Regions from separate parts of the Homo sapiens genome. Here regions 2, 3, 4, 5 and 6 are each linked to region 1. The links come from fine-mapping of genetic effects on gene expression. A gene starts in region 1. Each other region holds a variant in brackets. All regions are shown on one strand. Distances are between the middles of the regions.

What was found.
Region 2: its variant is fine-mapped to the expression of TNFAIP6 in whole blood (INTERVAL, PIP 0.98).
Region 3: its variant is fine-mapped to the expression of TNFAIP6 in whole blood (INTERVAL, PIP above 0.99).
Region 4: its variant is fine-mapped to the expression of TNFAIP6 in whole blood (TOPMed, PIP above 0.99). The same link has a PIP of 0.9 or more in blood mononuclear cells, neutrophils and spleen.
Region 5: its variant is fine-mapped to the expression of TNFAIP6 in whole blood (TOPMed, PIP above 0.99).
Region 6: its variant is fine-mapped to the expression of TNFAIP6 in monocytes after LPS (Quach 2016, PIP 0.95).

What each region holds. Positions count from the first base shown.
Region 1 is chr2:151,355,151-151,360,226 of GRCh38, forward strand. TNFAIP6 (TNF alpha induced protein 6) reads left to right here and starts at 2,442. Exons shown (of 6, transcript NM_007115.4): 1 at 2,442-2,610. The coding sequence starts at 2,517. The region is part of intron 2 of LOC101929319 (a long non-coding RNA gene); the gene reads right to left.
Region 2 is chr2:151,281,486-151,286,561 of GRCh38, forward strand. It overlaps NMI (N-myc and STAT interactor), which reads right to left. Exons shown (of 8, transcript NM_004688.3): 2 at 1,383-1,469; 3 at 463-558. The coding sequence starts at 1,463. Among named protein-coding and RNA genes, the nearest start is that of NMI, 5.6 kb to the right of the region's middle. The variant A/G (reference allele first, on the strand shown) is at 2,909.
Region 3 is chr2:151,295,341-151,300,416 of GRCh38, forward strand. No RefSeq gene overlaps it. Among named protein-coding and RNA genes, the nearest start is that of NMI, 8.2 kb to the left of the region's middle. The variant A/G (reference allele first, on the strand shown) is at 2,768.
Region 4 is chr2:151,288,094-151,293,169 of GRCh38, forward strand. NMI (N-myc and STAT interactor) reads right to left here and starts at 1,575. Exons shown (of 8, transcript NM_004688.3): 1 at 1,500-1,575. RefSeq lists enhancers at 124-293, 1,094-1,143, 1,164-1,213, 1,604-1,683, 1,744-2,163 and a silencer at 1,344-1,543. The variant G/T (reference allele first, on the strand shown) is at 2,065.
Region 5 is chr2:151,310,373-151,315,448 of GRCh38, forward strand. No RefSeq gene overlaps it. Among named protein-coding and RNA genes, the nearest start is that of NMI, 23 kb to the left of the region's middle. The variant C/T (reference allele first, on the strand shown) is at 2,872.
Region 6 is chr2:151,380,835-151,385,910 of GRCh38, forward strand. It overlaps a transcript of TNFAIP6 not described here. Among named protein-coding and RNA genes, the nearest start is that of MIR4773-2, 15 kb to the left of the region's middle. The variant G/GTTTC (reference allele first, on the strand shown) is at 2,764.

The DNA.
Region 1 (5,076 bases):
TGCCGTGGCGCGATCTTGGCTCACTGTAACTTCCGCCTCCCGGGTTCAAGCGATTCTCCTGCCTCAGCCTCCTGAGTAGCTGGGATTACAGAAGCAAGCCACCACACCCAGTTAATTTTTGTATTTTTAGTAGAGACGGGGTTTCACCATATTGGTCTGGCTGGTCTCAAACTCCTGACCTCGTGATCCTCCTGCCTCGACCTCCCAAAGTGTTGGAATTACAGGCATGAGCCACTGCATCCGGCCTGAAAGGAACTTTTATCAGTGTATCTTCTCTCAGCTCCTCATGAGGCTTATCCTGGGTGGTGTGTGCTGGAGGCTGGGCAGAGGGTGCTTCTTAGACAACTTCCAAGGTAAGTTCATAGGCAACATTTCCTTTGCTACTCTCTCTTTTCTTCTCTCTCGTCCTCAGGATTACCCTCTGCATCTTTTCCATATGAAAACCCCATTTCCTCTTTCCTTTATTGAATGCCCCTCAAAATCAGAACTTACATCATTAGGCATTATTCTCTATTTCCTTGATGATATGGAGGATGAGATTTTCAGACACTATGCAGAGGTAAGGGGAAATATTTATATTCTGCATGAGAGTTGGGAGAGGGGAGAAAGAAATCCTCCACCCCAGATCGGGTTAATTCATCAAAGCAACTCATTAAATTTTCGTGTTAAAAGAAGTTGAACATTCACACTTCGCTCTACTTGGAGCTTCATTAAAATGCAAATGAACACAGAAGGGTATCTGTTCTTAGTTATCTGGCCTAACTAAAGATTAATTGCAAACCCTTTCCTGAGAGTAATTTTTGATAAATGAGAACTAGGGGGAAATTAGGTGCTTGAGAGAGATGCAGAAAGGGCACAGCTGGAGGATGTGACAAGAAAAGAATTGGAAAGACTATGGGAAGGTTTTGCTGTAGCACTGCACAACTAAAGTTATATTTACTTCCTAAACCACAAACTTAAAATACGCATATAATTATACTTTCCAAAGAAATATCATGGTTTATTCCTTCCAACTACCTATGAATCTTGCTCTCAGTAACCATGCCTGTCTTCTCCATAGTCACACCCACCTGGTCTAAACTATACCTTTCTCTTTTGCAACAAACTTAAATTCACTAACCCTATCTGTGAACTTGGATACAATTCCCTCATCTTTCATGTGCCACCAGTCCAAAATAAAGATTTTCAATGCTAGTAACTTTATGTATACCTCAGTGAGCATCCAATAAATTCTGTACTCTCAGCCTACATCCCCATAACTGCTCTTTTGAGAAGAGATGAGACCAGAACACACCTGAGATGTTCAAAGCAAAGATGTCTAAGGGATTCAAAGCTAACTTCAAACCAGAGCATGTCTAGCAAGTTGGCTTTTTCAAAGAACTCCAACATCATTGGAGGGACTAAGAAAGCATGGGAGAAATGAATGCTATAATAGGAGTGAATGGGAAGCAATTTGAGACCAAAAGTAGAGAATCTAAGTAGCAAAAAATGACCAATTTTGTAAAAAAATCAAAAGTTGCCAATAAATGGCTATCAATGAACAATAGGAAATGCCATTAGCATCAGCGGTAGTGGGAGTATTATCAGATATGTTACCCAAGGATTCTACACAAAGGAAGAGGAAAGTTTGGGATATTTGAAGACATGATGACTTTACTGTAATAATTATTATCTATTACCTTGATCGTCTTCTTCAAAGTTAGAGTGGTCTAGGGAAGCTAGGGACAAGTTTTTATTAACTTTGTTAGTCTACCCACCTTTCTCCCAACACTTCAAGAATTTGTGGCCTGGGAAAACTGTGTTATAATAGGACATCCCAAAGCTGCTGGAACATCCTGACGCTCTGAAATTGAAATACTTTTCTGGGAGCTGATACATTTATTTAGCTGCTGACCATAACACACCAAAGACTGCAACAGACCCCACCCTGGAAGAAAAGCAGGCAGAGAATAAGGAAGTCATATATCACTGGAGAAAAATTAGGATTCTCCAAGCTGTGCATACTTTTTGTTTTAAATTTTTTACACAGGCTTGACAATGTTTAGAAAAGCCAGTCCAACATTACCAATAAAAGATTAGTGTTTAACCCCATATCCCATAATTGACACTGCAAATAAGACATTTAGGATTTATCTTGAAATTCCTACTGAAGTTCGATTTTCTTTTAATCACTGCTAAATCTGCATCAAGTTACACAAACTTTCTAACAGAAAAGTGTTTGTGACTAACAATAAATGAACTCCGTTCTTAGTAAGTTAATTTTAAAACATAGATGATCATTCTATCTCCTTAGTTTTGGTTGCCAATGCAAATGAGTCAGAGGATTTGCTTCAGACACTGAGATAATTGTGTAACTCTACAGCGGAAAATGCCATTGGAGAGTACTTGCTGACCTCACAGTTGAAAAAAACTATTTAAAAGATGTGGAAACCAGATGTTTCAGTCACATTTCAGCCACTGCTCTGAGAATTTGTGAGCAGCCCCTAACAGGCTGTTACTTCACTACAACTGACGATATGATCATCTTAATTTACTTATTTCTCTTGCTATGGGAAGACACTCAAGGATGGGGATTCAAGGATGGAATTTTTCATAACTCCATATGGCTTGGTAAGAACCTTCACTCATGAGCCTCTTGTTGAGAATGTCAATTCTTTAAATCATGGAGAAGGAAATTTAAAGCAGTAACTTTTTCTATTCTGTACAAGGCTGATGTTCTCAAAGAAAATGCTTAGGAAAGATAGCCTTTGGAATACATACGCTTTTTTTTTTTTAAGCGTTCTTGTCCTCTAAAATTTAAAAATAGCATTTTATAAAGTGAATTGTTCAGTAGAAAATAGCAGTTAATATTTATATTCAGTATGAAAATATATTTTTAAACTTTTCAAAGCAGATGTAGTAGTACAGTGAGGAGTATTTCTTTAACCAACTAGAAACTCCAATATAGTCTTCTGTTTTTATGTCAATGCATTTGCAATCAGATTTCAGAATCCTAACAGGTAAATTGGAGTCTACGAAAATTTTATAATAATTGCTTCATGGACTCTGAGCTATAGTCTATATCTTAGTTTTTTCAAACATTTTGACTATTTTGACCAAGCCAGCTTGCAGTACAGAAAAAAGTGAAAAATGTTTCTCCTTCTGAATGCATTCTTACCACTTTGATTCTTTCTGTTTCTACTATCCATATAAATACTTTTCTGACCCTTTTGTTAGACAAGGAAAGTTTCTTTTGTTATTTTGTTTTGTTAAATGTAAGGAATGAGACAGGCCAAACAGTGAAGATAAACAATAGATCAAAAAAGGAAAATGCAGAAAATCCAAAACACCCCTTAGATTACAGTATGCTAAACAATGCTTTAATTCTCATGATACAAATTGATATTGCTCTATGTTCATTATTGTGTTTAATAGTAAAAAAAAATTGAATTTCTTGGGGAAAAATGCATAGATTCTTGCATAGAATAAAGAAATAAAGAGAAGGCGAAATTAACCTAGATTTTGATTTTATGCTTTCTAAACAGCACAGTTGTAGAATATTTTCCCTTTCAGCATGTTTCTCTCTGGTAATAACTGCAACCATGCGGATTTCATTAAAAAGCCTAATTTGTAATGCACAGCCTTGCCGCCTATTTTTTTCAGCTTGAGCCAGTGAACTAATTTCACTGTGATCCATTTGGCCAAGACGGGATCTGAAATTTAGTAGAGGAATGAGCCCATCTCTTTATTTTAGTTGAATACAGTCAAATATAGGAAATACACTCATATTTGTCAGGATTTTTTTTAAATGTCATAAAGCTAGTAAGAATTAAATCCAGGCAGATAAACTTTGAAATATTATCAAACCCTCTAATAATCAAGTAATTTAGAGTTGTCTTTTAAAGTGTTGTCATATGTTACAAAAATATAAACCTGGACAATAGAAGTTTTGCCCCAGAGGTAGAGAGAAGCAAATTCAAACGTCTATTAATGTATGCTACAAATCTGAGGGTCAGGATAATTGCAAATTGCTTCAATCTGGGGCAAATTTTTGACCAGCCAGCCTAGCACAGATGTTTATAGTTGGTTGGATCAATATAATCTTTTTAGAAACCATTTAGGAAGGAAAGATAGTTGGATTAGAAGGGATACATCTGTTAGCAACTATCAAGAACAGGACACTTTAAATCTAGGGTGTCCCATCTTTTGCCTTCCCTGGGCCACATTGGAAGAAGAATTGTCTTGGGCAACTCATAATTTTTTTTTTTTTTTTTTTTGAGGCAGAGTCTCGCTCTGTTGCCCACGCTGGAGTGCAGTGGCACCATCTCGGCTCACTCCAAGCTCCGCCTCCCAGGTTCACGCCATTCTCCTGCCTCAGCCTCCCAAGTAGCTGGGACTACAGGCACCCGCCACCACGCCTGGCTAATTTTTTGTATTTTTAGTAGAGACAGAGTTTCACCATGTTAGCCAGGGTGGTCTCAATCTCCTGACCTCGTGATCCGCCCACCTTGGCCTCCCAAAGTGCTGGGATTATAGGCGTGAGCCACCGCACCTGGCCCAGGGAACTCATAATGTTTTAAGAAAGTTTACAAATTTGTGTTGGGCCACATTCAAAGCCGTCCTGGCAGGCCGCAAGTTGGACAAGTTTACTTTAAATTCTCTAGGTTATGGTTCCAATCTGGTAAAATGATAAGGTTGAAGTAAAGGATCCCTAAGGCTTATTTTAACTCTGGTATCATCTAATTTTTAAAATAGTACTTAAAACAAAAACAAACCACAGTTAAGGACAAGAAATTACAATCATTTTACATGGATCATGAGAATAAAAAATGCACAGATAAGCAATTATTTTTATTGTTGAATCTGAAAAAGAAGGGAAAGGAAGGTGGGATGCAGTGGTTCACACCTGTAATCCTAGCACTGTGGGAGTCTGAGGTGGGCAGATTGCTTGACCCCAGGAATTAAAAAGACCAGCCTGGGCAACATAGAGAAACTCTGTCTCTACCAAAAAAAACACAATTAACTGGGTGTGGTGGTGCATGCCTGTAGTCCTAGCTACTCAGGAGGCTGAAGTGGAAGGATCACTTGAGCCCAAGA
Region 2 (5,076 bases), 74 kb before region 1:
AGCTAACACACGTGATTGGCACGCAGATGATAGGCAGGACATGACAACACCCCAGAAACCCCCTTGGGTTCCCTTCTGGGTCTTACCTGCTTCCAAAATAACCACTGTTTTAACTTCAAACATCCTGCTTTTGCTTAATTTAAAGGGAAGCATATGGTATGCCCTCTTCTGTCTTTTTTGTGTTAACATTGTGTTTATGAAACTCATTTGTGTTGCTGCATGTCATTATGATCTGTTCATTCTCATTGCTGTGTAGTTTTCTATCATATGACTATACCCCAATTCACTAATTCGTTCTACTATGAAGGAATCATTGGGTTGTTTTCCATTTTGAACTATTACAAATGGTGGTGCCATGGATGATGATAAGGTTTTAAAAATGAATTTTGTGTAATTAAAATGCTTTTTCCAAAAACCATGCATCCATCAAAAATGTAGTATATAAAATAATTAAGAGAGTACCTGGAATTCTTTGGTAGCCTCTTGTAACTCCGTTTCAAGCTTTTGGATCTCCTTCTTTAGTTGAATATTTTTCTTTGTAATTTCATCAATTAGTCCCTTAAAAATATCAAATGGTACCAAAGAAAGTAAATAGCCCCTGAACTCATTTTTCCGAATGAACTAAAGACTATAAATTTCTCTCATCCTGACCAAAGAAAGACATTAGACAGTCTCAGAATAAATATGACTATGTGAATAATGCATTTGTTGAATATTTTACATCATCACCTGTCTATTCTAACATTGCCAAGTAGTACTATCTCCATTATATAAATCAGGAAACCACCTTTTACACTAGACCGAAGTCACAGAAAGTTGTATAGTAAGGCAAAGATTGAGATCAGATCTTCTGAATATTACTTCAGTGCTGCATCAACTCCTTTCCTAGCTATTTGTGAGCATGATAAGACTTTTAAATTGCACTGTAATAGCGGACATATTCTGGGGCAGTTTGTTGTTGGTGTTGTTGTTGTTTTTGTTCTTAATTATCTGTGATTCCCATAGTATCGCATAGTACACAGTTACCTTAATGAGCCAGACATATGACCTTGGGGAAGTGGTTTAAGCTACCTGGGCCTCCGTTCCCTCTTGGGGTCTAATGAGATAATTGCTGACTATGCTCTTAACTTGTTGATGCAAATCCAAGAAATGAGGGTGTGAGTGAGAAAGCAGCTAGTGTTGTAAGCCTTATAAGAGAAAGAATAAAAATATGACACTTCTTGTAAGGCTTAAATAACATAATGGAAGTTAAAAATTTTTTTAAAGCCTAACGGCCTCCCAAATTCAAGGTAATGTTGGACAAAGACATACAAAACATGCCTTACTGCAAAACTAATAGATATAAAATAATTTTTAATAATACCCAGTAATTTCCTTTTTACCTTATTTTGTTCATCTTTTATAAATTCATCTGGCGAATGCTCCTTAAGAATTTGTTGTGTGTCATCTTTATCAGCTTCCATGATCCCCTAATATTATAAAAAATAAATATTATAAGCATAGCATATATACACAAATTTAAGAACAAAGAAATAAGAACTTTTACCCTTTTATGGAAGAAACATCTCTTCTTTGCTATATCTTTTTTTCCCATCATCAAAGGCTTTATTATCATATGGCTTATATCCAAACAAAGTCTGTATTTTAATAACTCCTTTTTTTTTTCTTTTTTTGAGACAGAGTCTCTCTCTGTCGCCCAGGCTGGAGGGCAATGGTGCGATCTTGGCTCACTGCAACCTCTGCCTCCCAGGTTCAAGTGATTCCCCTGTCTCAAGCCTCCCAAGTAGTTGGGATTACAGGTACCTGCCACCATGCCCGGCTAATTTTTGTATTTTTAGTAGAGATGGGGTTTCACCATGTCGGTCAGGCTGGTCTTGAACTCTTGTCAAGTGATGCACCCCCCTCGGCCTCCCAAAGTGCTGGGATTACAGGCGTGAGCCACAGCACCTGGCCAATATTTCAAATAACTTTCACACCTATAATATATAAAAAGATTCTAAAAATCCTTTGCTTTTCAACAAAATAATATATAGAAAGTAATGAACATTAATGTTCCTTTGTAGTTCACATTCCAACCATAATATCATGCTCCATTTTAAATGAATACTATTTTGGTTTTCCAACGTTTTTCAAAGTTTTTGATTAAAATATTTAATTCTCCCTATTGTTCTCCCCAAATGTAAACAAAGTCAAGAGGCCTCCAACATATGCTTTCTCTACGCAGGTGTTCTTACCTGAAGCTTTCACTAACTCTCCTGCTGGGTCCATAAACATGGATTGGGAAGAAATTATATGTTTATTTCTAATAACCTCTAATTGAAGCTTAGCATTCTCTTCAATTATGAATATGGTAACAAACTACAGTAGTATTCACAGCACCTGTGATAGTCACCAATAGAAAGCACAGATAGTTTCATAGAATATTGTTGCAGATATGCTAAAATAGTTTGTGTTTAACATTGCTTCTACATTAGTTACTAACCTCACCACTAGGTCTTGTAATATATTGTAATACATTGATATATATCACTATATCAAACATTTGCTTTTTAAATATTCTGATAACCATATTTCAATACAATTGATTTCTGGCCGGGCGCGGTGGCTCATGTCTGTAATCCCAGCACTTTGGGAGGCCAAGGCGGGTGGATCACAAGGTTAAGAGTTTGAGACCAGCCTGGCCAACATGGTGAAACCCCGTCTCTACTAAAAATACAAAAAAAATTAGCTGGGCGTGGTGCCAGGTGCCTATAATCCCAGTCATATTTCAATACAATTGATTTACTTTGTAATTCTATGTATTTTATTTTATGCATTTAATTTTTTTTTTAGATAGGGTCTCACTTTGTTGCCCAGGCTGGAGTGCAGTGGGGCATGAACACGGCTCACTGCAGCCTCAACATCCCTG[A/G]CTCAAGTGATCCTCCCACCTCAGCCCCCCAAGTAGTTGGGACTACAGGTATGTGCCACCATGCCCAGCTAATTTTTGTATTTTTTGTAGAGATGTGTTTTCGCCAAGTTGCCTAGACTGTCTCGAACTCCTGGGCTCAAACAATCCGCCCCCCTTGGACTCCCAAAGTGCTGGGATAAGCCACCATGCCTGTCCCCACAGGCATTGACTAAATGTTTTTTTTTTGGAGAAAGGCCCATAGGATTTGCCAAGCTGGCAAAGGAATCCATGGTACACAAAATTTAAGAACTCTTGCCTACATATGAATTTACTGAGATGAAAAACTCTCAGATCAAAAATGGGACAAAGGATATCATGATTCTATGTTTTTAGATACACATTAATAAACAGTCTGCCATATAATTTTCCAAGATTTCAAGTGGCTAAATTCTCAATATTCTTGAAAAAGAAATAAAAGACATCTATTCCTCCTTAAAAATAAAATAGAAGACTAGCAAAAACTTAGCTATGTCTTAGTTTAATGAACACAGGAGTGTCAAAAAAAGAGGAGAGTCGCATAACACCCAGATCTTGGTTTCTAATAATATTCTTCAATAAAAGAAACCAGGGCTCATTGGAGCAATGGCTGATTCTAGGTCTGGGGTATAAAATATACAAAATAAGCCTGGAATATCTTGTAGTGCCAGAAAAGTAAAAAGCACTAAAACACATGCACAAACACATACAATATGATGGGAGTATGTGAAAGGGACATGGGGACCCAACTGAAAGGGCTCCAGTGGCCAAAAGTACATACACAGAATTGATCAAGTAAGTAAATATATGGAGGATAATAGGAGCCAAGTTTTTCACCGTCAGAGAAGATAATTATAAATATGGAAATGGAGAAAACAAGAATAAATACTGTTGATTGGAACTAGATTTCAATGTAATCCTGCAGCTGTGGTTTCTGATTGATGATTGAGATAGATAGATAGATAGATAGATAGATAGATAGATAGATAGATAGATAAATAGACAGACAGATAGAAATACCTATGTGTGATTACCCAGGCATGGTGGCATGCACCTGTAATCCTAGCTACTCGGGAGGCTGAGGCAGGAGAATCGCTTGAAGCCGGGAGGCAGAGGTTGCAGTGAGTCAAGACTGCGTCACAGCACTCCAGCCTGAGCGACAGAGTGAGACTCCATCTCAGAAAAAAAAAAAAAAAAAGCAATGCCTATGTGTGTATCTTGTGTATATACAAATACATATATACCCTAGCTCTGTCTGCTGAGAAGGCCTGGGAGAGCAGATACAACCACAATGAGCAATGAGCACACTCAGCACCCAGACTTTGGTTTCTAATACTATTCTCCACCAAAAGGAACCAGGACTCTTTAGAGAAATGGTTGATCCCAAAACCAGGATAGAAAAACTGCAAGATGAGCCTGGGACATCTTATGATGCCAAAAAGCAAGGAAATGCTTAAAGAATGATGATGACATGTTGAAACGACACAGAATCCACCTTGAGATGGTTTTCGGTGGCCAAATCTGGGGATAAATTAAAGATTAAAATACATAATGGTAGTAATGATTAAATCTGTTGATTAAAGTAAAAAACTGAGTCCAGATAAATTAGAAATTTTGATGAAGAAAGGAATTTTTAGTTAGCTTCAAAATAGTTCCCCACAAAATGTTTATTAATTTCAAAGAAGAAAAGAGTAACTTTATACTGGAGAAGTCTGGCAGACATCAACATAATGAGATAATCAAAGTAAATAATGGAATAAATCAAAATAATGTAACATATTACAAGGTGCACTGAGAACACAATGTAACTTCGACGACAGTCCTGCCAAAGATGCATAATCTGAATCTAAGCATGAGGAAACATCAGACAAACTCAAATTGAGGGGTTCTACAATACAACTGCCCTGTTCTCTTCAAAAGTTTCAAGTTCAGAAGGCCAAGGAAAGACTAAGAAATGTCCATACTGAAGGAGACTAAAGAGACCTCACAACTAAGTAGAAAGCATGATCCTCAACTGGATCCTTTTGCTATCACTGGGGCTCAGAAACTGATACCCGGAAGTATGGCATTTTGACATGGTGAACTGAAGATGGCTCAAGGTCTCTCTGACCTCCCCCTCCTCCTCCTCTGTCTCTCCCAAAGCACAGGATGAA
Region 3 (5,076 bases), 60 kb before region 1:
CCAGTAGCTGAAACCAGAGGTGCACGCCACCACGCCCAGCCGGCTAATTTTTTATGTGTATATTTTTTATAGAGATTGGGGTTTCGCCACATTTCCCAGGCTGGTCTCGAACTCTTGGACTCAAGCAATCCACCAGCCTCAGCCTCCCAAAGTGCTGGGATTACAGGCATGAGCCACCACCTAATTAATCTATCAAAATAGATTAATATGTATCTACGAAGATATATATTCGCCCAGCCTAATATATATCTTGATATAATAAATTATTTCTGTGGATCTCCCTTGAAATGTGTGGCATAGTTACAAGATAGGGAAAAATATGTTTTTGGGCAAGAAGACTTTCTGTACACCAGTGTTTGACAAACTTCCATGTCCATATAAATCAGCTGAAGATCATGTTAAAATATACATTCTGATTCTGTAGGATTAGGGTGGATATTTTGCATTCCAAAAGCTCCTAGATGATGCTGATGGTGCTGTTTCTTGTAAGAGGTGACAGCGTGCTGGCAGTCCTCGCAGCCCTCCCTCGCTCTCGGCGCCTCCTCTGCCTGGGCTCCCACTTTGGCGGCACTTGAGGAGCCCTTTGGCCCCGCCACTGCACTATGGAAGCCCCTTTCTGGGCTGGCCAAGGCCGGAGCCGGCTCCCTCAGCTTGCGAGGAGATGTGGAGGGAGAGGCGCGGGGGGAATCGGGGCTGCGCGCGGTGCTTGCAGGACAGCGCGAGTTACGGGTGGGCGTGGGCTTGGCGGGCCCCGCACTGAGAGCGGCGGGCGGCCCCGGGCAGTGAGGGGCTTAGCACCTGGGCCAGCAGCTGCTGTGCTCAATTTCTCGCCGGGCCTTAGCTGCCTTCCCACGGGGCACGGCCCGGGACCTGCAGCCCGCCATGCCTGAGCCTCCCCCGCGCCTCCGTGGGTTCCTGTGGGGCCCGAGCCTCCCCGACGAGCGCCGCCCCCTGCTCCACGCACCCAGTCCCATGGACCACCCAAGGGCTGAGGAGTGCGGGCGCACGGCACCGGACTGGCAGGCAGCTCCACCTGCGGCCCCCGTGCAGGATCCAGCTGGGCTCCTGAGTCTGGTGGGGACTTGGAAAACCTTTATATCTAGCTAAGGGGTTGTAAATACACCAATCAGCACTCTGTATCTAGCTCAAGGTTTGTAAACACACCAATCCGCACCCTGTGTCTAGCTCAGGGTTTGTGAATGCACCAATGGACACTCTGTATCTAGCTACTCTGGTGGGGACTTGGAGAACCTTTATGTCTAGCTAAGAGATTGTAAATACACCAATCGGCACTCTGTATCTAGCTCAAGGTTTGTAAACACACCAATCAGCACCCTGTGTCTAGCTCAGGGTTTGTGAATGCACCAGTCAACACTCTGTAGCTACTCTGGTGGGGACTTGGAGAAACTTTGTGTGGACACTCTGTATCTAGCTAATCTAGTGGCGACATGGAGAATTTTTGTGTCTAGCTCAGGGATTGTAAACGCACCAGTAAGCACCCTGTTGGACCAATCAGCTCTCTGTAAAATGGACCAATCGGCTCTCTGTAAAATGGACCAATCAGCAGGGTGTGTGGGTGGGGCCAGATAAGAGAATAAAAGCAGGTTGTCGGAGCAAGGAGTGGCAACCTGCTTGGGTTCCCTTCCGTAGCGTGGAAGCTTTGTTCTTTCGCTCTTTGTAATAAATCTTGCTGTTGCGCACTTTTTGGGTCCACACTGCCTTTATGAGATGTAACACTCACTAAGAAGGTCTGCAGCTTCACTCCTGAAGCCAGTGAGACCACGAACCCACCGGGAGGAACGAACAACTCCAGATGCGCCGCCTTAAGAGCTGTAACGCTCACCGCAAAGGTCTGCAGCTTCACTCCTGAGCCAGTGAGACCACGAACCCACCAGAAGGAAGAAACTCCAAACACATCCGAACATCAGAAGGAACAAACTCAGGACATGCCGCCTTTAAGAGCTGTAACACTCACTGCGAGGGTCCGCAGCTTCGTTCTTGAAGTCAGTGAGACCAAGAACCCACCAATTCCGGACACGCTTGGGCTACACTTTGAGTGACAAGGCTGTACACTAACTGGTTCACTAAAATCATGACCAGAGATTGTCATTCTGGTCGACGGGTTTTATGTGCCACCTGGCTATTACGAAGCGCAGAACCCTCTTACTGTTTCCAGCCTGGAGGCCGAGTCCATAGACGGAAAGTGAGGTATTTCTAGGTGTCCCTGTGTTTCATGAAGGGGCGGTATATGCAAAGCAGCCCCCAAATGCCAAAGGAGTTGAGCTACCAAAGAACAAGGCAGACAAATCCAGTTCGTCAGTAAGGAGTGTTTTAATGGAAAGTTAAGATGGAAATGTGGCGGCAAGGCAGATCTCTGCACTGTTGCTTCCCAGACCCAGGGCTTATATACCACAGGGAAAGGGTATACGTGCTCCAGCAAGACAATTAAAAGCAACCCTCCAAAACAGGCAAGAATGCCATATGCATTATAGCCTATAGTTTGTCTGATAATATCAGGTTTGACATGTTCTTACACTAAGGACAGTAAATAAATGAGGAATTAGGAGGCATTCATGGGACTGGGGCTAATCAGGACTCAATATGGCAGATCAGCATCCAAAATGGAGTCCTTTTGTCTCCACACCCTGGTGTGCTTTTCCTGAGGAAAGAGCAAGAGCTGTTCCTATCTTTCGTGCCATCTCCTTCAGAGAGCATTGGCTTCTTGCTTGTAGCTAGGCTGCCATTATAGCTACTCTGAGGGAAAGGA[A/G]GGAATAAACAGTGAGGGGAAATGAGTCAAAATGACACTAAAGAGTGGAAAGAGGAAGTAAGAGAAGCCAAGAAAAAAGAACAGGGCAAGTGTATATGGGAACTTGAAAGAGGTATTCTCTTCTCTTTCATTAATTATTCATTTCAATTTATTCTAAATAGTTTGCCCTAGTGTACAATGTAACAAGATAGAATGATCTCACACACAGGACTCATTTTAATAACATAATATCTGCATGGGGATGTTTGATAATGTTTAATATACAAAGGCAGAGTTAATTCATCCTTCTCAGGGCTTAAACCCGTCCAGGGAAATTGTAAATAAAAACAAGCTTCATCTCCGATAAAAATAAAACAGTGTCCTTCAGATCTTACTGCTTCGCGACTTTATGAATTGGAATGGAAACGTTGTTGCCTTTTGGGAGATTGACCTCAGCTGTTTTTCAACTTTTTGAAGAATAAGAACTCTAATTTTGGTGCCAATACTCAAATAGAAGTTTTCTCAGGTGGACAAACAACACCTGGTAGGCTGGTTTGTCATGGAAATTGCACCACCTTAAAATCACCAGGAGAACCAAGCTGAGTCTTTGCTTTGACCCTGACTAGCTCTGTGAACTTGGGCATATGTAAAGGATCTGGTATATAATAGGTGCTCAAAAAAATGTTACTACTGATCGCATTTCCCTTTAGCTTTCCGAGGGTCCATTTCTCAGTTTCTCAAATGTAAAAATGATGACAATAATGTTACCTACCAATTATAGGGTGTTTGGTGAGGATTAATTTAGCTAATGTACATAAAAATACTTTTTGAACAGTAAATGCAAAATTAAATAATATTATTAATATTAATATTGTCCTCTGATTTTAAGCTATAATTAGAAGAGTTGAAAGGGATGACTGTTGCATAGAGAAAATAATTTGATAGGTTAAAATATAAAATGCAAGACCTGAATACAGTCACCAAGACAACTGCATAAAATGACACTGGATGGGCACCACACAATGCCTCCTCATGTCCCCTCGAATTGTGCAGTGTGTGCCAGGAACGGATTCTGGGCTGCCAAGACTTAGTTGTTTGCTGATCTAGATTTAGATAGAACACATAAAAACAAGTCAGTCAGATAGTAAGTCTAAGATCTTTCTCTCTCACTCATTCTGTTTCTCTTATTTTTGCCATATTCTTTTTTTTTTTTTTTTTTTTTTTTTTGAGACGGAGTCTCGCTCTGTCACCCAGGCTGGAGTGCAGTGGCGCGATCTTGGCTCACTGCAAGCTCCGCCTCCCGGGTTCACGCCATTCTCCTGCCTCAGCCTCCCGAGTAGGTGGGGCTACAGGCGCCCACTACCACACTCGGCTAATTTTTTTGTATTTTTAGTAGAGACGGGGTTTCACTGTGTTAGCCAGGGTGGTCTCGATCTCTTGACCTCGTGATCCGCCCGTCTCCGCCTCCCAAAGTGCTGGGATTACAGGCGTGAGCCACCGTGCCTGGCCATTTTTGCCATATTCTTTAATGAACTGTACACGTAAGAAAGATGGGTAATATTGAGTGGGTTTTTTGTGATGTAGTCTCTGAAGATATACCAAGCAGCAATTGTTTTCTCTGCTGCTCATACAGCCCCTTTTATGTGGCCACAAACCTAATCTGGCCTCCTGCAAAGGGCAATGTGATCAGATGGCACAGATTTCTTAAAACTTGATTTCAAAAATTCTGCCCAGTTTCATTTCTCATGCCACAGCCAGTGTCTCTTTTTCCCCATACTCTCTTGCATGAAAATTCATAGTTGAATTTCCCGCAGGACTTTTCATGGGGCTAATCTACATCTGGAATTTACCCTGCTAATGATTCTCTTTCCTTTCATCCTGTATACTCGTGCCAGATTATTCTTCTAAAAGGGTCAGTATCATCATGTCATTCGACATGTTAAGCGCTTGCAGATGACATCCCATATATACAATCCAAATTCCAGAGTGTAAGATGTACACTCCCTCCCGTCACTCCCAATACCAAACTTTCCACCACAGGCTGGCTACAGTTTATCGGTAACTTCATCAGCCATTACTCCCTTCCACATCCCACTGAATTAGTCAGCTATCCAACTCCAGAACATACTAGGCCTCCTCTCTCTTACTATTTTCCTCCCCTAAGTTGTTTCCTCTTTTCTTTCTATTATTTCAGTCATACAGTCAGACAAGTGAACTTTCAACAAACCCACACACACACTATACATGCAGTGGTGATAGTGAAAACACAACTGCTCAGCATGGACATTGAACCATGAGAATGGCTCTCACCAGAGTGCTGGAGCAGTGTC
Region 4 (5,076 bases), 67 kb before region 1:
TTCCTTTTATGCAATCATGTAGTAGGCAAAACAATGGCTCCCTCAAAGATGTCCACATCTTAATCCCAAGAATCTGTGATTATGTTAGTTTATATTGCAAAGGAGAATTAAGGCTGCAGATTGAATTAAGGTTGCTAATCAGCTTGCTTTTAAATATGGAGAGCATCCTGGATTATCTGTGGGAGCCCAGTGTAATCATGAGGCTACTTAAAAGTGAAAGCGGAAGACAGAAGAAGAGTCAAGAGTGAAATGTGACCCCGGAAGAACTTTCAGAGGCGCAATGTTGCTGGCCCTGAAGATGGAGGAAGGGCTGCTGAGCCAAATAAGGTAGGTGGCCTCCGGAAGATGGAAAGAGGATTCACCCCAAGAGCTTCCAGAAAGGAAGGCAACCCTGCCAACACTTTGATTTTAACCCAGTGAGACCTCAGTAGGACTGCTACAGAATCCTAAGATAGTAAATTGTGTATGTGAGTGTGTGTGTGTGTGTGTGTGTGCGCGCGCGCGCGCGTTCCTATGTGTTTAAGCCACTAAAGCCATGTAATTTGTTATGGCAGCGAATTAAAAAAACTGATACAAATCAACATCACCGTATTTCCGTAATACAATCATATAACTGCGGTGCCAGGCCGTGTAGAATCGAATCTTCCTATATGCATGCGTGGCAGCAAAAAGAAAGGCAATAGAACGTCTGCCTGTTGTACAGACTGGAAACACAGTATTCTCCTTCGGATGTCTCCTTCAAGAAAAACCTTGCCTATTCTGACACGCCAGCCATGACTGCACAACACTGCCCCTACCAAGAATCGTTTTCTTAAGAAATCCGTTTTCCTAAGGACTATCTCCAGAGACACTCGGAGAAAACAGCGAGGGCCGGGCGCGGTGGCTCACGCCTGTAATCCCAGCACTTTGGGAGGCCGAGGCGTGCGGATCACGAGGTCAGGAGATCGTATCCATCCTGGTTAACACGGTGAAACCCCGTCTCTACTAAAAATACAAAAAAAAAAATTAGCCAGGCGTGGTGGCGGGCGCCTGTAGTCCCAGCTACTCTACTCGGGAGGCTGAGGCTGGAGAATGGCGTGAACCCGGGAGGCGGAGCTTGCAGTGAGCCGAGATCGCGCCACTGCACTCCAGCCTGAGCGACAGAGCGAGACTCCGTCTCAAAAAAAAAAAAAAAAAAAAAAAAGAGAGAAAACAGCGAGGAAACACAAATAACTTTATGTTTCAATTTCCTCAATGAAGCAAAGCAAACAAGTGACAAGGCTCGAAGCCCTGACGGCCCAGAGACTGCACAGCGGGCCCAGGAGCAGGTGCGCCCCCTCGAAGGCGGCGTGGCCTCCGCGACTCGGCTGCGGGCAGCTCCCGGGGAGCAGGGTCTCAACTCCGGCGCTGTCCCACTTCCGTCGGCGCTGAGGGCTCCCACCTCCCTTTCCACCCCCGGCTCTCCAGCCCGGGACTGCCAGCGGCGGGAGTGGCAGCCGGGGAAGGGACTCCCCACTCACCCGCGTCCGCCCGCCGAGCGCAGCTCCCCAAGGCCCAGCGCGCCTGCCCTTCCCGGAAAACAGCAGCGCCTGAAACGCCGGAACCCCGGGAGGCACTGGGAGGGGAAGGCCCGGGTTCTCGAAACTGTCGCTGCCTCCTGCAGAAGCGCCGCGGGAGAGCTGCGGGGTCTTCCTGAGGAGGTGGCCCTCGCAGGAACAGCTGGGTTCCCCGCGAAAAGAAAAAGACAGTGAAAAAGAAAACTGCTTTAACGGCGATTTTTCTTTAGCATTTAACCAATGCTCAAATACTAAACATGGTTGTCTCCAATGATTAGTCACTAACAGAAAAAAAAACTAATTTCACTTTCGATTTTTAAAAAGGGGTGGTTTTGCGGAGGAAAGCAGAAGTATACCTGAAGTTTCCGTACACACTAATTTTAGGGAACGCTTTCTAAAACCAGTTTTTTGCATGTATTTTATAAGGTATGTTGGAAAAGTGGATAGAAACCAAATAAAGTCAAAGCAGGAATCGCTCTTCATCAGATTGTAACTCTTTTGTAATTTCTTAGTCATTGTAACACTAGTT[G/T]ACAAATGTTTACAGTCAGCACAAGATCGGCGTTTCTGTGTCTTTTGTAACATCCCCCGGGGCCATGAAGTTGGGAAAGCTGTGGTGTTCCTGTTGGTTTCTGTGACCCATGTCCCTTGAAAGTTTTCTTATAATCTCTTGTTTTGTTGTGGAGCTTGTAAATAAATACTTCACTAGGTGTGAACTTTTCCTTTGAAAATTCAAACATCTGGTTTATTTCAAGAACTGCAGTGTCTCTTAATCCCACACAAAGAACCACCCCACAGCTGCCCCGGCTCATAAATACAGATGTGGGAAGAAAATGAGTCAAAATTATTTCAAGGCATAAATTATAGGTTATCATGCTACCTAGTCACATATAATAACTGATACAGTGGTCTAAAATAGTTTAACAAAAGTAAAATTTCTTTGTATCAAAAAGGTTGATGGGAACCAGTTTAAAGTGGTGACATTTCTCTTTTTTTTTTTTTTTTTTGAGATGAGTCTTGCTCTGTTGCCCAGTCTCCAACTCCTGAGCTCAAGCAGTCCTTCCACCTCCACTCCCAAGTAGCTGGGATTACAGGAATTCACGACCGCACCCAGATTTTTTGTACTTTTAATTTGGGTGCTGGGGGCAGGTATCTAACTGTTTCCCAGGCTGATCTTGAGCTCTGGCCCAAGTGATCCCACCACCTCAGCCTCCTGTAAAATGGCATTTCTAAGTAAAAAAAACGACTTCTTTGTGCTTATCAGACCAGTTAGAAAATACAAAAACTCCTTCTGCTGCAACTTGAGAAAGAATTACTTTAGTTTTACCTTGAAATTTTAGAGGGAATATGAACTCTCGAGGTTATTTAGTTGAACCTCATTTCTTCTTATTTTTATTTTTTACAAGAAGATACTAAAGGACAGGACCATGGCCAGAACAGGACTAACTTAATATATTGACTCAGATTCTGTTTAAAAGGCAAATGATACAGGTGGAGGGGAAGTCTTTTTGGACACCTACATTCTAAAGCTGAGACATGTACTAACAGTCTGAATTTAACTCAGCTTCAAATCTGGTATTCTGCAAAGTGTTAGAGATCTGAAGATGAAGAGTTGGCTCCTGGACATACTATTAATAATTGTAATTGCTAACATCTACTAAGAACTCCTGGACATTTTATAAACCTTTTTGTTTTGCCAACAACAATATTAGATATAGGTATTATTCCCATTTCTTTTCACCTGTCTGAAGCAGGCAGGAAGGTATTATCCCCATTTTGCAGTTGAGGAAACTAAGGCATAAAGAGGTGACCCAAAATCAAGCAGTTAATATATGGTGACAATGATATCATACTCTACTCTCAACAATATCTCCAAACTGTGTCCTAGGGTACATGGAGAACATGGAATTTTATGGCCCAATACAATTAGGAAATGCTGCATTCTGAATCCACTTTTGGAAATTCACAATGCACATTGGCACATTAAGAGTTCCAAGAAGTATTGCAGGGAAAAATTAAAAATTTGTGCATATTAAAAATTTTAACTTTATTCAACCTTGAACTTATCAAATCAATTTGAGCGATATATTCTTTTTTTCAAGGAACAGTTATTAAAATCTTGGGGAGTTTCTGATGGGACCTTTCGAGGAATGCTCTAGTAAATTACGCCCTCTCCTAATATAAAAGTTATTTATTGATGTTATCATGCACTCAATAAATATGTTGCACATGAGCTGCAGCACTCTGTGCCTTGGATATCTCATGTAAATCTACACAGATGTGAGGTGAATATTATGTTACACATTTGTCTCCCTGACTACATGGCAATGAACTCCTCCCAGGCTTTCTATAAAGACACACACACACACACACACCAGTATTACATACAGTCTAATGTGTGTTGGAAGGGGTAGGATACCAGAAGTAGTAAAAAACAAAGGAGAGCGTAGTCCCCTCTACCTGAGGAGGTCAGGGAAGTTTCCTTCACAGAAGAGGTGAAAATTGAGTTGATTCATTAAGGTAGAGAAAGTAGACTGAGAAGAAAGATCGGGTGAAAAATCTCAGAGGGATGTGCAATGGACTAAATGTTTGTGTTCCTCCAAAATTCGTATGTTGAAATCCTAACCCCCAAGGTGACAGTATTAGGGCTGGGGCCTTTGGGAGATGATTAGGTCATAAAGGGTGGAGCCTAAATGAATGAGATTAATGCCCTTATCAAAGAGGTCCAAAGGAGTTTGTTGACCTCTTCTGCCATGTGAGGACACAGACAGAAGGTAATCTATGAATCAATAAGCTGGCTCTCACCAGACACTAGATCTGCAGGACCCTGGATCTTAGACTTGCAGCTTCCAGAACTGTGAAAAATAAATTCTGTTGTTTATAAACTACCAGTTTATGATGTTTTATTATAACAGTCCAAAAGGACTAATATAGCATAAAACAAATGGGAGGCACCAAGAGTTTAGTGATTATGCAAACTATGAGAAAGCTACCTGATATCTATTACATGATGATTCTCTTTTAAGAAAAGGCTACTACACCAAGCTTATGCTGCTGTTGCTAAGATTGTGTTGATCTGGTTTGCAGTTCATCCTTGGGGAAACTGGAACACTTATGCCCAGTATTGTGCAAGATCCTGGGGGGATACAAATGAATTCTGTAACTTCCTTCTAGTTTTCAAGAGTGTTCCCATTGGACTACATAAGTGGTAAAGGAAAATACTTACTCTTTTATCAGGCAAGCAGTACTGTATAGTTAAAAGCATGATTTTGGCCAGACATGGTGGCTCATGACTATAAACCCAGCATTTGTGGAAACTGAGGCAGAAGAATCACTTGAGTCCAGGAGTTCAAGGCTGCAGTGAGCTGTGACTGCACCACTGTACTTCAACCTGGGCAATAGCACGAGACCCTGTCAAAAAGTAAATAAATAAATAAAGCATGGTTTTGGTGTCAGAAATGGGTTTGAATTTCAATTTTTAGTTACTGAAGTTTCTCAGCTTCAATTTTCTCATCTATAAAATAAAGGTGTGGTGCATGAGATA
Region 5 (5,076 bases), 45 kb before region 1:
CTTTCTTCTTTCTCTCCTGTCTGTTCCTTCAGTCTCCACCCCAAGCTCTGAGTCCTTTGAATCCTCCTTTTCTACAGACTCATCTGACCTCCCTTTCTCCCCAGGCTGCTCCTCGCCAGGCCAAGCCAGGTCCCAATTCTTCCTCAGCCTCTGCGCACCCACCCCACAATCTTTTTATCACCTCCCCTCCTCACCCGGTCTGGCTTACAGTTTTGTTCCGCGACTAGCCCTCCCCCACCTGCCCAGCAATTTCCTCTGAGAGAGGTGGCTGGAGCTAAAGGCATAGTCAAGGTTAATGCTCCTTTTCTCTTTATCCGACCTCTCCCAAATCAGCTAGGATTTAGGCTCTTTTTCATCAAATATAAAAACCCAGCCCAGTCCATGGCCCATTTGGCAACAACCCTTAGACATTTTACTGCCCTAGACCCATAGGGGTCAGAAGGCCGTCTTATTCTCAGTATGCATTTTATTTTATTACCCAATCTGCTCCCGACATTAACTAAAGCTCCCAAAATTAAATTCCGGCCCTCAGACCCCACAACGGGACTTAATTAACCTCACCTCCAAGGTGTACAATAATAGAGTAGAGGCAGCCAAGTAGCAATGTATTTCTAAGTTGCAATTCCTTGCCTCCACTGTGAGACAAACCCCAGCCACAGCTCCAGCACACAAGAACTCCAAACGCCTGAACCACAGCTGCCAGGGGTTCCTCCAGAACCCCCTCCCCCAGAAGCAAGTGCTGGAAATCTGGCCACTGGGCCAAGGAATGCCCGCAGCCCAGAATTCCTCGTAAGCCATGTCCCATCTGTGTGGGACCCCACAGAAAATTGGACTGTTCAACTCGCCTGGCAGCCATTCTTCCGGGAACTCTGGCCCAAGGTTCTCTGACTGACTCCTTCCCGGATCTTCTCATCTTAGCGGCTGAAGACTGATGCTGCCTGATTGCCTCAGAAGCCTCCGGGACCATCGTGGATGCCGAGCTTCTGGTAACTCTTACAGTGGAGGGTAAGTCCGTCCCCTTCTTAATCAACATGGAGGCTACTCACTCCACATTACCTTATTTTCAAGGGCCTGTTTCCCTGGCCTCCAAAACTGTTGTAAGTATTGACGGCCAGACTCCTAAACCTCTTAAAACTCCCCAACTCTGGTGCCAACTTGGACAATATTCTTTTATACACTCCTTTTAGTTATCCCCACCTGCCCAGTTCCCTTATTAGGCTGAGACATTTTAACCAAATTATCTGCTTCCCTGATTATTCCTGGGCTACAGCCACACCTCAATTGCCATCTTTTGCCCCAATTCAAAGCCTCCTTCACATCCTCTCCTTATATCTCCCCACCTTAATCCACAAGTACAGGATACCTCTACTCCCTCCTTGGTGACAGATGATGCACCCCTTACCGTCCCATTAAAACCTAATCACCCTTACCCCACTCAATGCCAATATCCCATCCCACAGCACACTTTAAAAGGATTAAAGCCTGTTATCACTTGCCTATTACAGCATGGCCTTTTAAAGCCTATAAACTCTCCTTACAATTCCCCCATTTTACCTGTCCAAAAACCGGACAAGCCTTACAGATTAGTACAGGATCTGCACCTTAACAACCAAATTGTCTTGCCTATCACCCCATGGTGCCAAAGCCATATACTCTCCTATCCTCAATACCTCCCTCCACAACCCCTCCATAACCCATTATTCTGTTCTGGATCTCAAACATGCTTTCTTTAGTATTCCTTTGCACCCTTCATCCCAGCCTCTTTTTGCTTTCACTTGGACTGACCCTGACACCCATCAGGCTCAGCAAATTACCTGGGCTGTACTGCTGCAAGGCTTCACGGACAGCCCCCATTACTTCAGTCAAGCCCAAATTTCTTCCTCATCCATTACCTATCTCAACATAATTCTGCATGAAAACACACGTGCTCTCCCTGCTGATTGTGTCCGGCTAATCTCCCAAACCCCAACCCCTTCTACAAAACAACTCCTCTCCTTCCTGGGCATGGTTAGGTACTTCCGCGTTTGGATACCTAGTTTTACCATCCTGACTGAACCATTATATAAACTCACAAAAGCAAACCTAGTTGACCACACAGATCCTAAATCCTTTCCCCACTCCCCTTTCCATTCCTTAAAAAACAGCCCTAAAAGTTGCTCCCACACTGGCTCTCCCTAACTCATCACTCCGTTTTCATTACACACAGCTGAAGTGCAGGGCTGTGCGGTCGGAGTTCTTACACAAGAGCCAGGACCGCTCCCTGTAGGCTTTCTGTCCAAACAACTTGACCTTACTGTTTTAGCCTAGCCCTCATGTCTGCGTGTGGCAGCTGCCACTGCCTTAATACTTTTGGAGGCCCTCCAAATCACAAACCGTGCTCAACTCACTCTCTACAGCTCTCATAACTTTCAAAATCTATTTTCTTCCTCACACCTGACACATATACTTTCTGCTCCCCAATTCCTTCAGCTATACTCACTCTTTGTTGAGTCTCCCACAATTACCATTGTTCCTGGCCTGGACTTCAATCTGGCCTTCCACATTATTCTGGATACCACACCTGACCCCCATGACTGTATCTCTCTGATCCACCTGACATTCACTCCATTTCTCCTTATTTCCTTCTTTCGTGTTCGTTACCCTGATCACACTTGGCTTATTGATGGCAGTTCCATCAAGCCTAATCACCACTCACCAGCAAAGGCAGGCTATGCTATAGTATCTTCCACATCTATCATTGAGGCTACTGCTCTGCCCCCCTCCACTACCTCTCAGCAAGTCAAACTCATTGCCTTAATTCGGGTCCTCACTCTTGTAAAGGGACTACTCATCAATATTTATGCTGACCCCATATCCTGCACCACCATGCTG[C/T]TTTATGAGCTGAAAGTTTTCCTCACTACACAAGGGTCCTCCATCATTAATGCCTCTTTAATAAAAACTCTTCTCAAGGCTGCTTTACTTCCAAAGACAGCTAGAATTATTCACTGCAAAGGCCATCAAAAGGCATCAGATCCCATCACTCAGGACAATGCTTATGCTCATAAGGTAGCTAAAAAAGCAGCTAGCGTTCCAACTTCTATCCCTCACGGCAGTTTTTCTCCTCATCTAGTCACTCCCACCTACTCCCCAACTGAAACTTCCACCTATCAATCTCTTCCCACACAAAGCAAATGGTTCTTGTACCAAGGAAAATATCTCCTTCCAGCCTCACAGGCCCATTCTATTCTGTCATTTCATAACCTCTTCCATGTAGGTTACAAGCCGCTGGTCCGCCTCTTAGAACCTCTCATTTCCTTTCCATCGTGGAAATCTATCCTCAAGGAAATCACTTCTCAGTGTTCCATCTGCTATTCTACTACTCAGGGATTGTTCAGGCCCCCTCTCTTCCCTACACATCAAGCTTGGGGATTTGCCCCCACCCAGGACTGGCAAATTGACTTTACTCAACATGCCTCGAGTCAGGAAATTAAAATACCTCTTGGTATGGGTAGACACTTTCACTGGGTGGGTAGAGGCCTTTCTCACAGGGTCTGAGAAGGCCACCATGGTCATTTCCTCCCTTCTGTCAGACATAATTCCTCGGTTTGGCCTTCCCACCTCAGTTTCTGAGGCTCTTGGTATTTAGTGGCTCCTGGTTTTACCTCAAATCGCCACCCTTAAGTCTATCTAGAAGTGGATAGAAGATCTTCAGTGATAAAGTACCCTCCAATACTTTCACCCTGATGAAGTCCTATTCTTTACTTTTATACTTACTCTTATTCTCGTTCCCATTCTTATGCCACCCTCTACCTCTCCCCAGCTATCTCCACCACACTATCAATCTCAGTCACTCTCTCCTAGCCCTTTCTAATCCTTCTTTAACAAACAATTGCTGGCTTTGCATTTCTCTTTCCTCCAAATTCGAGGAGGCCCTAACTTACTCACTGCTAAAAAAAAAAAAAAAAAAAAAAAAAGGTAGGGGGGACTCTGTATATTTTTAAATGAAGAAGGTTGTTTTTACCTAAATCAATCTGGCCTGGTCTATGACAACATAAAAAAACTCAAGGATAGAGCCCAAAAACATGCCAACCAAGCAAATAATTATGCCGAACCCCCTTTGACACTCTGTAATTGGTTGTCCTGGGTACTCCCAATTCTTAGTCCTTTCATACCTGTTTTTCTCCTTCTTTTATTCGGACCTTGTGTCTTCCAAATAAGAGAATAACAATGCTCCTTCTAACAACCCCACAATATCACTCCTTACCCCAAAATCCTTCTTCAGTTGAATATCTCCCCCTGTAAGTTCCCACGCCACCCCAATCCCGCTCGAAGCAGCCCTGAGAAACATCACCCATTATCTCTCCATACCACCCCCAAAAATTTTCACCGCCCTAACACTTTACCACTATTTTGTTTTATTTTTCTTATTAATATAAGAAGACAGGAATGTCAGGCCTCTGAGCCCAAGCTAAGCCATCATATCCCCAGTAACCTGCATATATACATCCAGATGTCCTGAAGCAACTGAAGTTCCACAGAAGTGAAAATAGCTTAACTGATGACATTCCACCATTGTGATTTGTTTCTGCCCCACCCTAACTGATCAATGTTCTTTATAATCTCCCCCACTCTTAAGAAATTTCTTTGTAATTCTCCCCACCCTTGAGAATGTACTTTGTGAGATCCACCCCCTGCTCCCAAAACATTGCTCTTAACTCCACCGCCTATCCCAAAACCTATAAGAACTAATGATAATCCCACCACCCTTGCTGACTCTCCTTCGGACTCAGCCCACCTGCACCCCGGTGAAATAAACAGCCTTGTTGCTCACACAAAGCCTGTTTGGTGGTCTCTTCACACAGACTTGCGTGAGACAACCCTCACAGGGGAACCTGAAGGTCTAGATCACAGGAGGAGATTCTGACATTAACTGCAGCTGAGTCAATTTAGAGAGCTGAGTGAAATACAGGGGTAGAGGAAGCAGCGGGATAAGCCCTGTGGGCTCTCTGGGTCTCCGGGGAAGCCATTTCTGCCTTGCCTCACAGGAGTCCTTGGGGAGGGCTGCCAGAGGAACTGGGAAAAGACCACAGGGAAAAG
Region 6 (5,076 bases), 26 kb after region 1:
TTTGGTTTGGTCTCTTTGGCCTGGTGCAGAAGCTAAGTCCAAACCAATGACCTCCTATAACTTTTATTTAAGAGAATAAAAATTCCCATTATAAGATATGACATGTATTCATCTATATTTTATTTTTGTTTTGTCACTTCACCTTTTTAGGGAGAAAAAAACACAGTTGTTACTCGGTAATGAGGGATGTTGGGACTCAGACGATACCCTAAAGTATGACACTTTGGGATACTGAGTACTTTGAGCTAAAGGAGACTGGAAGGCCTCAGAAGCAAGATCTCTGTGACCTTCTCCTTCCATCTTCCCTCTTGCCCCAAGTCTTCCTCTTCCAAAGCAAGTCATAAAAACCAGAATTCACCGGGCGCAGTGGCTCACTCCTGTAATCCCATCACTTTGGAAGGCCGAGGCAGAGGATCTCTTGAGCTCAGGAGTTCAAAACCAGGCTGGGCAACATAGCAAGACCTCATCTCTATGAAAAAAATTTTAAATTAAAAAATTAAAAATTATCTGGGCATAGTGCCACATGTCTGTAGTCCCAGCTACTTGGGGGGCAGAGGCGGGAGGATCACTTGAGCCCAGGAGTTTGAGGCTGCACTGGAGCTATGATTGCATCACTGCATTCCAGTCTGGGAGACAGAGTGAGATCCTGTCTTTAAAAAAAAAAAAAAGCAACCAGAACCAAAATTCCTCTTCCTCAAGTCTAGTTACAGACTCCTCTCCCAAAAAGCACGCTATAAAACCTAGAAAGGTCTCTCTGTCCTCCTTCTCCCTTGCAGACCCTCATTCCAGAAGAGTCCTGCCCCACACCCAGAAGGAAGGAGTGTTACACAGAGAGGCCAAGAAGAATCTAGACAGACAGGCCTTACTGGGCCTCCCCACTTGGTCTATTGCCATGAGATCACATGATTTGTCCAATCACATTTCTACATGGCCGTCTATTCTTCATCAAACCTAAACATAAAAATACAATTTTCCTTGGGTCTTTGAGTCTTCATTTCTGTAGGCTCCCATGTCACATAAAATTTTGATTAAATAAATTTATAATGCTTTTCTTTTGTTAGCCTGCCTTTGTTATAGGAGTGTTGGCCTTATGATGGTAAGGAAAGGTATCACGCCTTTCCATCCCTAAACAAGCAATGATTACCATCTAATTAAATTAAACAAAAATGCACGTGCCGGCCGGGCACAGTGGCTCACACCTGTAATCCCAGCGCTTTGGGAGGCCAAGGCAGGCAGATCACCTGAGGTCAGGAGTTCAAGACCAGCCTGGCCAAAATGGTGAAACCCCGTCTCTACTAAAATATACAAAAATTAGCCGGGCATGGTGGCAAGCGACTTAATCCCAGCTACTTGGGAGGCAGAGGCAGGAGAATCGTTTGAACCCGGGAGGCGGAGGTTGCAGTGAGCTGAGATTGAGCCATTGCACTCAAACCTGGGGGTAAGAGTGAGACTTCGCTAAAAAAAAAAAAAAAAAGCATGTGCCAAGCACTGTTCTAGGCACTTAGGGAATACCAGAGAACCAAAGGAACAAAAATCCCCACGTTTGAGGAGCTTATGTTCTGGTGGAGGGAGAGAGATAATAATTAATATACATAATAAATAGACTACATATTAAACATAGGTTAGGGTGCTGCATTATAAACTACTGACACTGTGAGATCATCAGTGACCTGGATGGGCAGTTTCAGTGGGGAGGAGGCAAAGGCCCAACTGAAGTGTGTGAAAAGTGAACTAGAGGAGAAAGGAGAGGTATTGGAGACAGTGGGTCTGGCTAACAAGGAAGTGGTAGCTGTAAGGACAAGTGGGCTGAAAGGAGACTTTCTTGATGAGAATGAATGAACTCAGCTGGGAGAGCTGCTGGGGCCATTTCTTTGAGCCCATGCAGTTGTGAGGCCCCTGGCAAAAATCATATGACACTCTCCAAAGAGGGAGCCTGGAGAGATTATAATAGAGGAATGGGCTGACTTAAGAGAAGGAATGGTGAATCACAGGGTGCTCACAAAGCAGGAGGGCCATGAAGGAGCAAAATCAGGGGCAGTTATATGAAATCAAGACAGGGAGCTTTAGCCACAGGAAAGGGTTGCCCAACCAAAGCCGGAAAAGAGCTTCTGCCCACCTAAGGCCATGGGGAGGGATTGAGGATAAATACCCCAAAGTCTCCCTCCTCCACCCTTCTCTGTACTACTTGTACCTCCCATTGTCTCATCCCAACAGAAGTCAGAATGCAACGAGATCTGGTTGATACTGCACAGAGATCAGCTCCAGGGCCCAGTGCAAGGAGAAGGTGGAGAACAGATCCAGAAGGGCAAAAGGAGGACACTTAGCACAGTGAGAGGAGATAGTATCTAGTGCACAAATAGAGGGACTGGATTTAGAGAGGGACATGGATAATTCACCTGCAGGAGGGACTCTTAGCCTTTATATATACCATAAATTCTTTGATGGGTGAAATTTCTGGATGGTCAGAATAATGTTTTCAAATGCATAAAATATAAAGGAATACAAAGAAAACTAATTATATTAAAACACAGTTATCAAATCATTGAAAAAAAAAAAAATCAAAGCCAGGTGTGGTGGCACATGCCTATAGTTCCAGCTACTCAGGAGGCTGGGGCAGGAGGGTGGCTTGAGCCCAGGAGTTTGAGGTTGCAGTGAGCTATGATTATGCCTGTGAATAGCCCTACTGCACTCCAGCCTAAGCAATATAGTGAGACCCCCATATCTAAAAACAAACAAAAAAAACTGTGATACATTAAAGCATGT[G/GTTTC]TTTATTAATGCTGTATATAAGATCTAGCAGTGGGTCGAGTAACTACCATAATTTCAAAGTAGACTGAGTACCGTGGCTCATACCTGTAATCTCATAACTTTGGAAGGCCGAGGTAGGCACATGGCTTGAGCCCAAGAGTTTGAGACCAGCCCGGGCAACATGGAGAAACCCTGTCTCTAAAAAAATTAGCTGGGTGTGGTGGCATGTGCCCATAGTCCCAGCTACTTGGGAGGCTAAGGTGGGAGGATCATTTGAGCCTGGGAGGTCAAGGCTGCAGTGAGCTGTGATAGTGCCACTGCCACTGTACTCTAGCCTGAGTGACAGAGCGAGACCCTGTCTCAAAAATAATAATAATAATAATTTCAAAGTGGTAATACACGTATACAATATTTTATGAGTTCTACAAAAACTGTTTCATATATCTGTAGTGTCTTTCGGGGCTAAAAGCACAGGTACTGCTAATGCTACATTTATTAACTACATTCATAGTTGAAAGACATGCTAGATTTCAGATAAAAGTCATTGGAAATAAACTTTCAATCCCACATGCAAGATCACGACCCTGTGGATTCTGCCCCCAGACCCTTTAGGAGGAAGGCAGAGTGTGAGGCCACAGAAGTCGACAGGTGGGGAAGATAGATGGTAGGAATCTGCAGGAACTTCTTCTTGCTTTGCATTTCTCAGTGAAGAAAGAGTCAAGTCATGAGCCAACAGTGAGGATGGAAAGGTAGATGTGAGAGGTTGAGAAGAGAGAAGGCATGAAAGAGTCTTCTAGGAAAGTGGGAAAGTGAATGAACTAGGAAATAGCATGTGATTACCAGGCAGCACAAAGGGCCCATCTGAAGTTCATGGTCATGGAATTTAACGGGAGACTGGTCAGCAAGGGTGTTTTCTTCTAGCCACGTTCAGCTTCACGAGAAAAAGACAGGCTAGAGGGAGAATTGCGTTAACCGCTGCTGGGTTTTTGCCGTGTGAGTATAACAAGAAAGGGGCAAGGGAGGAAGAAGTGTGCATGCTTAAAGGAGGGATTGTAAAAACCCATGGAATGCAGATTTTTTTGATTTTTATTTCTTATTTCACTTATTTATGTATTTATTTTTTTGAGACAGCGTCTCACTCCATCACCCAGACTGGAATGTAGTGGCTCAATTTCGGCCCATTGCAACCTCTGCCCCCCAGGTTCAAGCGATTCTCCCGCCTCAGCCTCCTAAGTAGCTGGAATTACAGACACACGCCACCATGCCCAGCTAATTTTTTGTATTTTTAGTAGAGACAGGTTTTCACCATGTTGGTCAGGCTGGTCTCAATCTCCTGACCTCAAGTGATCCGCCTGCTTTGGCCTCCCAAAGTGGTGGGATTTCAGGCATGGGCCATCATGCCCGGCCAGAATGTAGTTTAATTAGAAGGGAAGAGAGGACATCAGTAAATAAGGCACACTGAAAAAGTGGTAGACTTGATGAAGTGAAGCTCCCACAAAGGCTCAAAGACTGTAGAATCAGAGTATAAGAGAGAATGAATGGAGAGATAGGAGGTAGTTGTCAGACAATGGGATTTTAAACATAACCTTTTGTGGTAGGCAGAAATCCTCCATCCTTCTAAAATGTCTAAGTCCTAATCCTTGAAACTTGTGACTATATTATCTTACATGGCAAAAGCAATTTTGCAGATGTAATTAAGTGCCTTAAAATAGGGAGCTTATCCTGGATTATACACATAGGTCCAATGTAATTGCAAGGGTCCTTAAAAGTGGATGAAGGAAGCATAAAAAGAGAGTCAGAGAAAAAAAAGGTGACAACAAAGCAGGGTCACAGTGATGCTATGTTGCTAGCTTTGAATATGGAGGAAGGAAGCCATGAACCAAAGAACGTGGGTTGCAGCTGGGAACTAGAAACGGTATAGGAACAGATTCTCCCCTGAGCCTCCAGAAAGAAACACAGCCCTGACAACACCTTGGTTTTAGACCAGTGAGACCCGCGTTGGACTTCTGAGCTACAGAACTGTAAGATAATAAATGTGGCCGGGCGCAGTGGCTCACGCCTGTAATCCCAGCAATTTGGGAGGCAGAGGCGGGTGGATCACTTGAGGTCAGGAGTTCAAGACCAGTCTGGCCAACATGGTGAAAACCTGTCTCTACTAAAAATACAAAAATTACCTGGGCATGGTGGCGCATGCCTATAATCCCAGCTACTTGGGAGGCTGAGGCAGGAGAATCATTTGAACCCAGGAGGCAGAGGATGCAGTGAGCTGAGATCGTGCCACTGCACTCCAGCCTGGGCGATAGAGCAAGACTCTATCTCAAAAATAAATAAATA